2 separate regions of the Homo sapiens genome follow, and region 1 is linked to region 2. Evidence: fine-mapped QTL for protein levels in blood plasma. A gene starts in region 2. The other region holds a variant in brackets. All regions are shown on one strand. Distances are between the middles of the regions.

Region 1 (5,000 bases), 42 kb before region 2:
AAAAAATTAGCTGGGTGTAGTGGCACAAACCTGTGGTCCCAACTACTTGGGAGGCTGAAGTGGGAGGATCACTTGGGTCCAGGAGGTCAAGGCGGCAGTAAGCTGTGATTGTGCTACTGTACTGCAGCCTGGATAATGGAGTAAGACTCTATCTCAATAAATAAATAAATAAATAAATAAATAAATAAATAAATAAATAAATAAATAAATAAAAGAGTAGTTCCCCATTTCTAGGGTGGTACCAGATGCTGCTATGAAGTTCATTTTGGATCTCTTGAACCAATGGCTCATGCATGATTGGCTAGGAGGAATACACTAGGAGGTTGTCTAGGTGAACTCCTTTCAAGCCTCTTGGTTCATGGACTTTTATTTTTAAGTTAGCATTTAGAATGTTTCAACCTAAATTTATATACCAGTGTATCTTGTTTTATTGTGCTTTGCAAATACTGTGTTTCTTAAACATTGAAGGTTTGTGGCAACCCTGCATTCAGAAAGTCCGCTTGTGCGATTTTTCCCACAGCATGTGCTCACTTTGTATCTCTGTGTCACATTTTGGTAATTCTCATAATATTTCAGACTTTTTCATTATTATTATATATGTTATGATTATCTGTAATTAATGATCTATTGTAATTGTTTTGGGGCTCCACAAAACCATACCCACATAAGATGGTGAACATAACTGACAAACGTTGTGTGTTTTCTGGCTGCTCCACAGACTGGCCTTTCCCCTGTTTCTCTCTTTCTCCTTGGGCCTCTCTATTCCCTGAGACAAAAAATATTGAAACTAGTCTAATTAATATCGTTACAATGCCCTTTAAGTGTTCAAGTGAAAGGAGGAGTCACATGTCTTTCACTTTAAGTCAAAATCTGGAACTGACTAAGCTTAGCAAAGAAGGCATGTCAACAGCTGAGATGGGCCAAAAGCTAGGCCTCTGGTGCCAGTTAGCCAAGTTGTGAATGCAAAGGAAAAGTTATTGAAGGAAATTAAATATTCTACTGCAGTGAACACACGCATAATAAGAAAGCAATACAGCCTCATTGCTGATATGAAGACAGTTTTAGTGGTCTGGATAGAAGATCAAATCAGCCACAACATTCCCTTAAAAGCCAAAGCTTAATACAGAGTGAGGCCTTTAACTCTTTTCAATTCTATAAAGGCTGAGAGAGGTGAGGAAGCTGTGGAAGAAAAATTTAAAGCTAAGAAATGTTGGTTCATAAAGTTTAGGGAAAGAAGTCGTCTCAATAACATAAAAAATACAAGGTGAAGCAGCAAGTGCTGTGTCGAAGCTGCAGCAAGTTATCCAGAAGTAGCTAAAATAAAGGTGGTTACACTAAACAACAGATTTTCAATGTAGTGAAACAGCCTGATCCTGGAAAAAGATGCCATTTAGAATTTTCACAGTTAGAGAAGAGAAGTCAATGTCTGGCTTCAAAGAATCAAAGGACAGGTTGACTCTCTTGTTAGGTACAAATGCAACTGGTGACTTTAAGTTGAAGCCAATGCTCATTTACTATTCTGAAAATCCTAAGGCCCTTAAGAGTTACACTAAGTCTAATCTTCTCGTGTTCTACAAATGGAGCCAGAAAGTCTGCATAATAGCACATCTGTTTACAACATAGCTACTGAATATTTTAAGCCCACTGTTGAGACTTACTGCTCAGAATAAAAGATTTCTTTCAAAATATTACTGCTCCTTGGCAATGTACGTGGTCACCCAAGGCTCTGATGGAGATACACAAGGAGATTAATGTTGTTTTCATGCCTGCTAATATAACATTCATTCTGCAGCCCATGGATCAAGGGGTAAGTTAGATTTTCAAGTTAAGAAATACATGTTGCAAGACTATTACTCTCTTAATGATTTCTCCTATGGATCTAGGCAAAATAAATTGAAAATGTTCTGGAAAGGATTCACCATTCTTGATGTTATTAAGAACATTCATGACTTGTGGGAGGAAGTCTGAATATCAACATTAAACAAAAGTTTGGAAGAAGATGATTCCAACTCTCATGGATGACTTAGAGGGGTTCAAAACTCCAGTGAAGGAAGTAACTGAAGATGTGGTAGAAACAGCAAGAGAACTAGAATTGGAAGTGAAGCCTGAGATATGACAGAATCGCTGCAATCTCATGATAAAATGTGAATGAATGAGGAGTTGCTTCTTATGGATGAGCAAAGAACATGGTTTCTTGAGCTGGAATCTTCTCCTAGTGAAGATGTAAACAATGTTGAAATGAAAATGAAGCATTTTGAATATCCCATAAACATAGTTGATAAAGCAGCGGCAAGGTTTGAGAGGATTGACTTCAATTTTGAAAGAAGTTCTGTTGTGGGAAAAATGCTTTCAAACAGCATCAC[A/G]TGCTACAGAGAAGTCTTTTGTAACAGGAAGAGTCAGTCAATGCAGCAAATGTCATTGCTATTTTAAGAAATTACCAAAGCCACTTTAGCCTTCAGCAACCACTACTCTGACCAGTCAGCAGCCATCAACACTGAGGCAAGACCTCCCCATCAGAAAACAGATTACAACTCACTTCAGGCTTATATAATCATTAGCATTCCTTAGGCAATTAAGTATTTTTTAGTTAAGATAAGTACATTGCTTTTATAGACTTAATTCTATTGCACACTTAATAGACTACAGTATTGTATAAACATAACTTTTTTTAATGTTCTCAAAGCTTTAATTAAGAACACTTTTCAGGAAATAATATACATCACACTAATTGTCCTTGCAGATTTAATTGGTATTTGAAGAAATCTTCAGATAATTCAATGTATCTTTAACTCTTTTCTTTTTTTAAATTTCAAATTTTATTTTAGATACAGGGAGTACATACGCAGGTTTGTTACATGGGTATATTGTACCCTGGTAATGAGCATAATACCCAATAGGTAGTTTTTTGACCCACGCTCCCCTCCCTCTCTCCCTGCTCTAGTAGCGCATAGTGTCTGTTGTTGCTATGTTTTTGTCCATATATACTCAATGTTTAGCTCCCACTTATAACTAAGAACATGTGATATTTGGTTTTCTGTTCCTGCACTAATTTGCTTAAAGTTATGACCTCCAGCTCCATTCATGTTGCTGTGGAGGACATGATTTCATTCTCTTTTATGGCCATGTAGTATTCTATGGTTATATGTACCACATTTTCTTTTTTGTTATTTGACTTTTAAGTTCAGGGGTAACTGTACAGGTTTGTTATGTAGGTAAACTTGTGTCGTGGGGGTTTGTTGTATAGGTTATTTCATCACTCAGGCATTAAGCCTAGTACCCATCGTTTTTTTCTGATCCTCTCCCTCTTCTCACTTTCCACCCTCTGATAGGCCCCAATGTGTGTTGTTCCTCTCTATGTGTCCATGTGTTCTCATTATTTAGCTCCCACTTATAAGTAAGAACATGCAGTTTTTGGTTTTCTGTTCCTGTGTTAGTTTGTGAAGAATAATGGCCTCCAGCTCCATTCATGTTCCTGCAAAGGACATGATCTCCTTTTATATGGCCACATAGTATTCCATGGTACATATGCACCACATTTTCTTTATCCGGTCTACTATTGATGGGCATTTAGGTTGATTCCATGTCTTTGCTATTGTGAATAGTGCTGCAATGAACATATGCATGTATGTGTCTTTATAATAGAACAATTTATATACCCTTGGCTAGATAGTGGTATTTCTGTTTTTAGGTCTTTGAGGAATTGCCACATCATCTTCTACAATGGTTGAACTAATTTACACTTCCGCCAACAGTGTATAAGCATTCCTTTTTCTTCGTAACTTCACCAGCATCTGTTATTTATTTATTTATTTTTATTTTTATTTTTTTGAGACGGAGTCTCGCCACGTCACCCAGGCTGGAGTGCAATGGCTTGACTTCAGCTCACCGCAACCTCCATCTCCCGGGTTCAAGTGATTCTCCTGCCTCTGTCTCCCAAGTAGATGGGATTACAGGTGCTCGCCACCACTCCTGCCCAGCTAATTTTTTGTATCTTTAGTAGAGCCTGGGTCTCACCATGTTGGCCAGGCTGATCTCAAACTCCTGACCTCATGATCCGCCCACCTCAGCCTCCCAAAGTGCTAAGATCACAGGCGTGAGTCCCCGTGCCTGGCCACATCTGTTATTTTTTTTAACTTTCTAATATTAGCCATTCTGACTGGTGTGAGATGGTATCTCACTGTGGTTTTGTTTTGCATTTCTTTAATGATCAGTGATGTTGAGCTTTTTATCATATGATTGTTGGCTGCATGTATGTTTTCTTTTGAGAACTGTCTGTTCATGTCCTTTGCCCACTTTTTAATAGAGTTGTTTGTTTGTTCTTTTCTTGTAAATTTGTTTAAGCTCCTTATAGATGCTGGATATTAGATCTTTGTCATATTCAGTTTGCAAAAATTTTCTCCCATTATGTATTTGTCTCTTTACTCTGTTGATAGTTTCTTTTGCTGTGCAGAAGTTTTTAGTTTAATTACATCTCATTCATCAATTTTTGCTTTTGTTGCAATTGCTTTTGGTGTCTCTGTCATGAAATCTTTCCTCATTCCTTTGTCCAGAATGGTATTGCCTAGGTTGTCTTCCGAGGTTTTTATAGTTTTGGGTTTTACATTTAAGTCTTTAATCCATCTCGAGTTAATTTTTGTATATGGTGTAAGGAAGGAGTTTTAATTTTCTGCATATGGCTAGCCAGTTATCCTAGCACCATTTATTAAATAGAGAATGCTTCCCCCTTGTTTTGTCAATTTTGTTGAAGATCAGATAGTTGTAGCTGTGTGATCTTATTTCTGGGTTCTCTATTCTGTTCCATTGCTCCATGTGTCTGTACGAGTACCATGCTGTTTTGGTTACTGTAGCCCTGTAGCATAGCTTGAAATTGGGTCGTGTGATGCCTCCAGGTTTGTTCTTTTTGCTTAGAATTGCCTTGACTATTTGGGCTCTTTTCTTTTTTTTTTGGTTCCATGTGAATTTTCAAATATATTTTTTTCTAGTTCTGTGAAGAATGTCAA
Region 2 (5,521 bases):
GGATTGTAATTCTCAACAGGCCAGAAACTTTTCCCCAGAGCCAAGACTGGGGTTCAGAGGCCAAGTGACTGCCCAGCCTACATAGCAGGTATATAGCAAAGCCATGATTTCAATTTGGTCTTTCTGGCTATATAAGTCCTGCTCTTTCCAGTACATCATGCTGAACTAAGTTCTCTCTTACTCTTTTTAAAAAGAAAAGATCTCAAACTTCTGAAGAACATCTCAGTTTTCTGAGAAACTCTTGCTAAAGGAAAAGAAAGAGAATGAAGTGGCTGTTGCCCTGTTCTCTGAATGGTCGTAGGTGATTCACTTCAGGGAGCCTGCTGTCTTGGCATGATTCCACTAATGGTCAGAAACCTCCTGAATATTGATCGAGGTTTCCTCTAATTTCCATCCAGACAGACAGTGGAGTGATGGGTATCACAGGGTGGGACTCCTGGACCTTATGTGGGACAGAATGAATGCAAGAGACCAGACTTGCTCCTGAGCAAGTTCCAGGTAGGACCCCTGAATGTCTCCCTGGACACTCTTGTTCCATTCAAGGTGACAGCAGGATCTGCTTTTCCCACACTGTTCCTTAGAGCCCAAAGAGCCCCTTCCACTTGGTAGCCAGCATTCAATGGGCAAGGGAACAAGTCTCCCTTTCTTTAGATTTTGTCTTGGCTCATGTGAAGATTCTGTATATAGAATAAAATATTTTTCCCATTGACTTCCTTCACTGAGCACAGATTTAACTCAGAAAGAGTGAAATAAAATTAGCTTTATTTCACTCTTTATGATTAGAACAGTAATACATGCATTTTTAAAAAATCAAAACTAAATACTAAATCTAGAGCACGGGTTGGCAAATTATGGCCTGTGAGCTGGCCAACACTGTTTTGGTAAATAAAATGTTATTGGAACACAGCCATCCTCATTCGTTTACATATGGTCTATGGTTGTTTTCCTGCTACCACAGCAATGGCATTGAGTAGTTACGGCACACACCTGAAAAGCTTAGCCTATTTACTCTCTTGCCTTTTACAGGAAAAGCTTGCTGATTCCTGAGCTAGAGCTAGAGAAGCAATGAGGACACATGTTTATTCTGACCCTGCAGAAGTTTGTAGTTCTGACACATTCCTCTATAAATAGCTGTTTTCAGAGCTGTAAAAACATTCAGCATTCAGCCAGACAATAAAGAGGCATTACAGTCCTATGGGCAGGAAAACAATTCTCTCCAAATTGTTCTTTTCTTCAATCTGCATGTTATTGCCCTTCTTAAAGCCAGGCTTTTAAGGAAGAGGCAAGCATGTGGGGTCTTGAGAAGGCTAGGTGGTACCTGGTCACCCAGACATGCAAGTGGTGTTGGAAACAGGCTGCGTGACCTCAGAACATGTCAGCCTAGAGGGCAGTAATATTAGGACATCTTCACAGGCTTTCCAGAGCCACCTCTATAGAATCCTGGGGTAGTGGGGTGACTGATATGCCAGAGACCAAGAACAACAAAGACAAGGAGGACTCACCTGCCTGTTCAGTGACTGCATCTGTGAGGAGATCAAAAGCCAGAGATTAGCACACAGCATTTGCCCTCATAATTTATAAATTTATATTACTCTGGTAAATTGCTCAAAAACTTCTTTCCATTTTCCCTTTCTTTTCTATTTCCCTAATCTCTTATTACTAACAATTCAATCTCCCTCGAGCACACATCTAACTGTCATTCATTGTAGTCAAAAGGCAAGTTGCAAACCCAATGCTTGACTAAAGGGATTGTCGAGAATACCCATGTTGGATATTTAGTGACTCTCCTTGATTTCATTTTCCTTCCACCATCCCCACCACTCTATCTCACACTCTGACTTTTCAAGTGGTAGATAGACATGACAACACGATCACAAAGGGCTCATCAGGAAACATACATTGTGAGAGTTCCAAGAAATCAACAAATCAGTCTCTTTCCTATGGCCATATTTCACGTTAGAGCCCTTTGTATTCCAATAACAAATATTTATTTAGTGCCTACACAGCATAGAGAAAGGGATCTTATTTACTCTCTCACCCAGGCTGGAGTACAATGGTGCGATCTTGGCTCACCACAACCTCCACCTCCCGGGTTCAAGCAATTCTCCTGCCTCAGCTTCCCGAGTAGCTGGAATTACAGGTGCCCACCACCACGCCTGGCTAATTTTTGTATTTTTAGTAGAGATGAGGTTTCACCATGTTGGCCGGGGTGGTCTCGAACTCTGACCTCAAGTGATCCACCAGCCTTGGACTCCCAAAGTGCTAGGATTACAGGTATGAGCCACTGCACTCACCCAGGAATCTTATTTTCTAGCAGCAGCTGTCATCTCCCTCATTGTCCACGATTAAACAGAGGAATATTAGCAAAGGGTCTCAATGCATCTGCTGAACCCAAATCTTATAGATAACAATTGAATAATCGGTGTTCATGGAGGAGAAGGGCATTGCTAAATGCTAATATTATGAACATTTTACTATGAGAACATTATATTACTCAATGAGATCTAAGATATCAAAATAGCAATTCATGACCAGCAAATGGAAAAGTGGTCCACCTTGAACATTAAGCATTGTGCTTAATGCTTAATGGATGTGCTGCAAATTCACTGTCCTCAGCCTACTTCTTTGCATCTGCCTTTGAAGCCCAAGCTGCAGGCAGGACCTGAGCATCCCCACCAGTCCCTGGGCTCCAATAAAACCTCCAACCTTTTGGGAGCAGTAGACCTCATTCAGCTGCCACCTCACTTCTCAGTCAAATTATTGAACTCACCAAAGATGACCAGCAATGACCACAGCAGCATGAGGACCTAATCCAGCTATTTGAAAAGAGATGTACTCTTGGTCACCAACTGGAGACTCTGAGCAGGCGATGAAATGTGGTTTTCAGAATAGGTTTTGTATAATTAGCAAAAAAGGAAGTAGAATAGTGCCACTATGTTTAACCATTATCTTTGTCCTGGAAGGGCTAAAACAATTATAGCTGATCCTCTCAATGCCAGAGAAATTTTGTAACTTGACCCTCATTATGATACCTAGCATTTACATATGGGTTGCAATGAGTCAGACACAGTTCTAAGTGCCTCATGCTTACAGAGTTATTTATTACCTTCAGCAAGTTTCTGAATTGGCACTATCCCCTTTCACATGAATAAGGAAATTGAGGCACTAGTAAAGGTAAGTGTCTTAGTCCATTGGGGCTGCTATAAAGAATACCTTAGACTGAGAAATTTATAAACAACATAAATTTATCACTCATAGTTCAAGAGGCTGGGAAGTTTAAGATCAAGGCACCAGTAGATTCAGTGTCTGATGAGGGCCTGTTTCTCATAGATGGTGTCCTCTATGTGTCTTCACATGATGGAAGGAGCAAACAAGCTCCCTCAAGCCTCTTTTACAAGGAGACTAATCCTTTTCATAAGAGTTCCACACTCATGACCCCTAAAAGGTCATGTAATAAAAGGTGGGTACCTTTTATTACTATTGCATTGAGGATTAAGTATCAACATAAGAATTTTGCCAGGACACAAACATTCAGATGATAGCAGCCAGTAAAATGACCAAGATCAGCTTAATCAATTTCTAGTAGTAACAGATCTGGGATTCAAACCCAGGCAGCCCAGTGTCACAGTCTGGCTCTTAAACATTGTGCCCTATTATCTTGATATATTGCTTCTCAAGGTTCATAAAATAATAAGGCCATTGTTTCAATAGCTCATATTTCTTAAGTAAAATTTTTCGTAGTCATTCGATGACTTTCTAGAATGAGATTTTACTAAACTTCAAAACACTTGCACTATATTGCTGAAAACATTGCCATCTTTCTAATCTGTAATCACAACATTGCCTATTTCTAATCTGCATTGCTTTTTGTACCCCAGGCTGATCCTAATACAGTTATCTCACACAAAGCAAAGCGCGTGTTATGTGAACACCTATTATCATGCTCACTTTGATTAGATGTAGTCCCAGTAGATGTTGTCTCATCAGTGAACCTTATGCAGGATGAAACTCTAAACCAAAAAATCACAGGTGCTTATAAATGAGGGACTGACTGAAAATATTCATAGACTCAATGTTACCTGTTCAGGTACTTAACATTTACCTGAATACTTAACATTGAATTTTTAACAATTGGATACTTAACATTTTATTCTCACTATTATCATAGTTTTACTTTGAGAAAGGCTAATATTTATATGTGATGGTCATTAAAGCCTTGCTTATAATAATGTAAAAAGAAAATACTAAAAATATATCACAAGGAGAGATGTGTGTTAAAAATAAGTTATGTGTCAAATGCTGTGGAAAACCAAACAGCCATTAAAATAATTCTGTGGAATAATATTTAATAGCAAGATAAGATGTCTAGGATATATGATTAAGAAAAAAGTGGGCTGGGTGCGGTGGCTCACGCCTGTAATCTCAGCACTTTGGGAGGCTGAGGCGGGCGGATCACGAGGTCAGGAGATCAAGACCATCCTGGCTAACACGGTGAAACCCCATCTCAACTAAAAATACAAAAAATTAGCCGGGCGTGGTGGCAGGTGCCTGTAGTCCCAGCTGTTTGGGAGGCTGAGGCAGGAGAATGGTACAAACCCGGGAGGCAGAGCTTGCAGTGAGCCGAGATCGTGCCACTGCACTCCAGCTTGGGTGACAGAGCAAGACTCCGTCTCAAAAAAAAAAAAGAAAAGAAAAGAAAAGAAAAAAGTGGCTGCAGAGTGCACTTTATCTGCTGCACATTATCCCCTGCTCTCCAATAAAAAGTGTCTGAGACAATTCGCACCACAGAGTTACTGTAATTATATCCAAAAAATCTAATTAAAGCTGATTTTTATTTTCCTTATTTTGCTTATCTGTGTATTCTAGTATTCTTACAATAAACATATGCTATTTACGTACTTTTTAAAGATTCATTATAAGAAACTAGGTTTTATGGCCTCTCTCATCTTAAAGTGTTGAAAACAATACTACTTTAACTTTCTGCATAGGCAAACGGTTTGTATGTGTTTGAAAGTGTAAGTTACTCTTTCCCAGGACCAAAGCTAGTCACTGATCATCAAATCTTGCCTACTGAATGGGTTTCTAGGTGGCCTATAATTCCTTCCCATTCTGACCAACCTGGAAGCTATAGAAATTTTGTGGATGGGAGGGAATTAAGGAAAGGAGTACAAATAGGATCATGAAAAAGTTGATGGTAAATTGATGGTAGGTACAAGTTTTTCATAGACATCAAGGAGATTTTTCAAAATAATCCATATCCCTTCACTGATTTCTATATACCCTCTATGGAAATGTGGCCTCTTCAGTTAAGAATCAATATTTCTTAAGGTGTTACCAAATGATATGAGGTAAAATTCACAGTTGGTATAAAAGGTGCAGGTGGAAAGCAGCAGTAATGAGGTGTGTGGGCCACAGAGGTGGCAACAAATCCTCTAAGATGGCTAACATGTTTCATGTGGGTGCTACTCTGTATTTGACAGACGGCAGTAATTTACAAGTGAATAGGCATATCCTGGAAGCG

Alleles and levels. Alleles are on the strand shown, and positions count from the first base shown. The strength of an association depends on the size of the effect and on how common the allele is.
As copies of A replace G in region 1, the plasma level of the protein whose gene starts at base 2,860 in region 2 goes up (weak association).

What was found. PIP is the posterior inclusion probability: the model's chance that the variant is causal. Protein levels are from antibody-based Olink assays in UK Biobank. Linkage for the fine-mapping came from a reference panel and not from the study's own genotypes, which makes the PIPs less certain.
Region 1: its variant is fine-mapped to the plasma level of the FCRL2 protein (UK Biobank, PIP above 0.99).

What each region holds. Positions count from the first base shown.
Region 1 is chr1:157,732,090-157,737,089 of GRCh38, forward strand. No RefSeq gene overlaps it. Among named protein-coding and RNA genes, the nearest start is that of FCRL3, 34 kb to the left of the region's middle. The variant A/G (reference allele first, on the strand shown) is at 2,364.
Region 2 is chr1:157,774,273-157,779,793 of GRCh38, forward strand. It overlaps FCRL2 (Fc receptor like 2), which reads right to left and starts at 2,860. Exons shown (of 12, transcript NM_030764.4): 1 at 2,771-2,860; 2 at 1,503-1,523. The coding sequence starts at 2,801.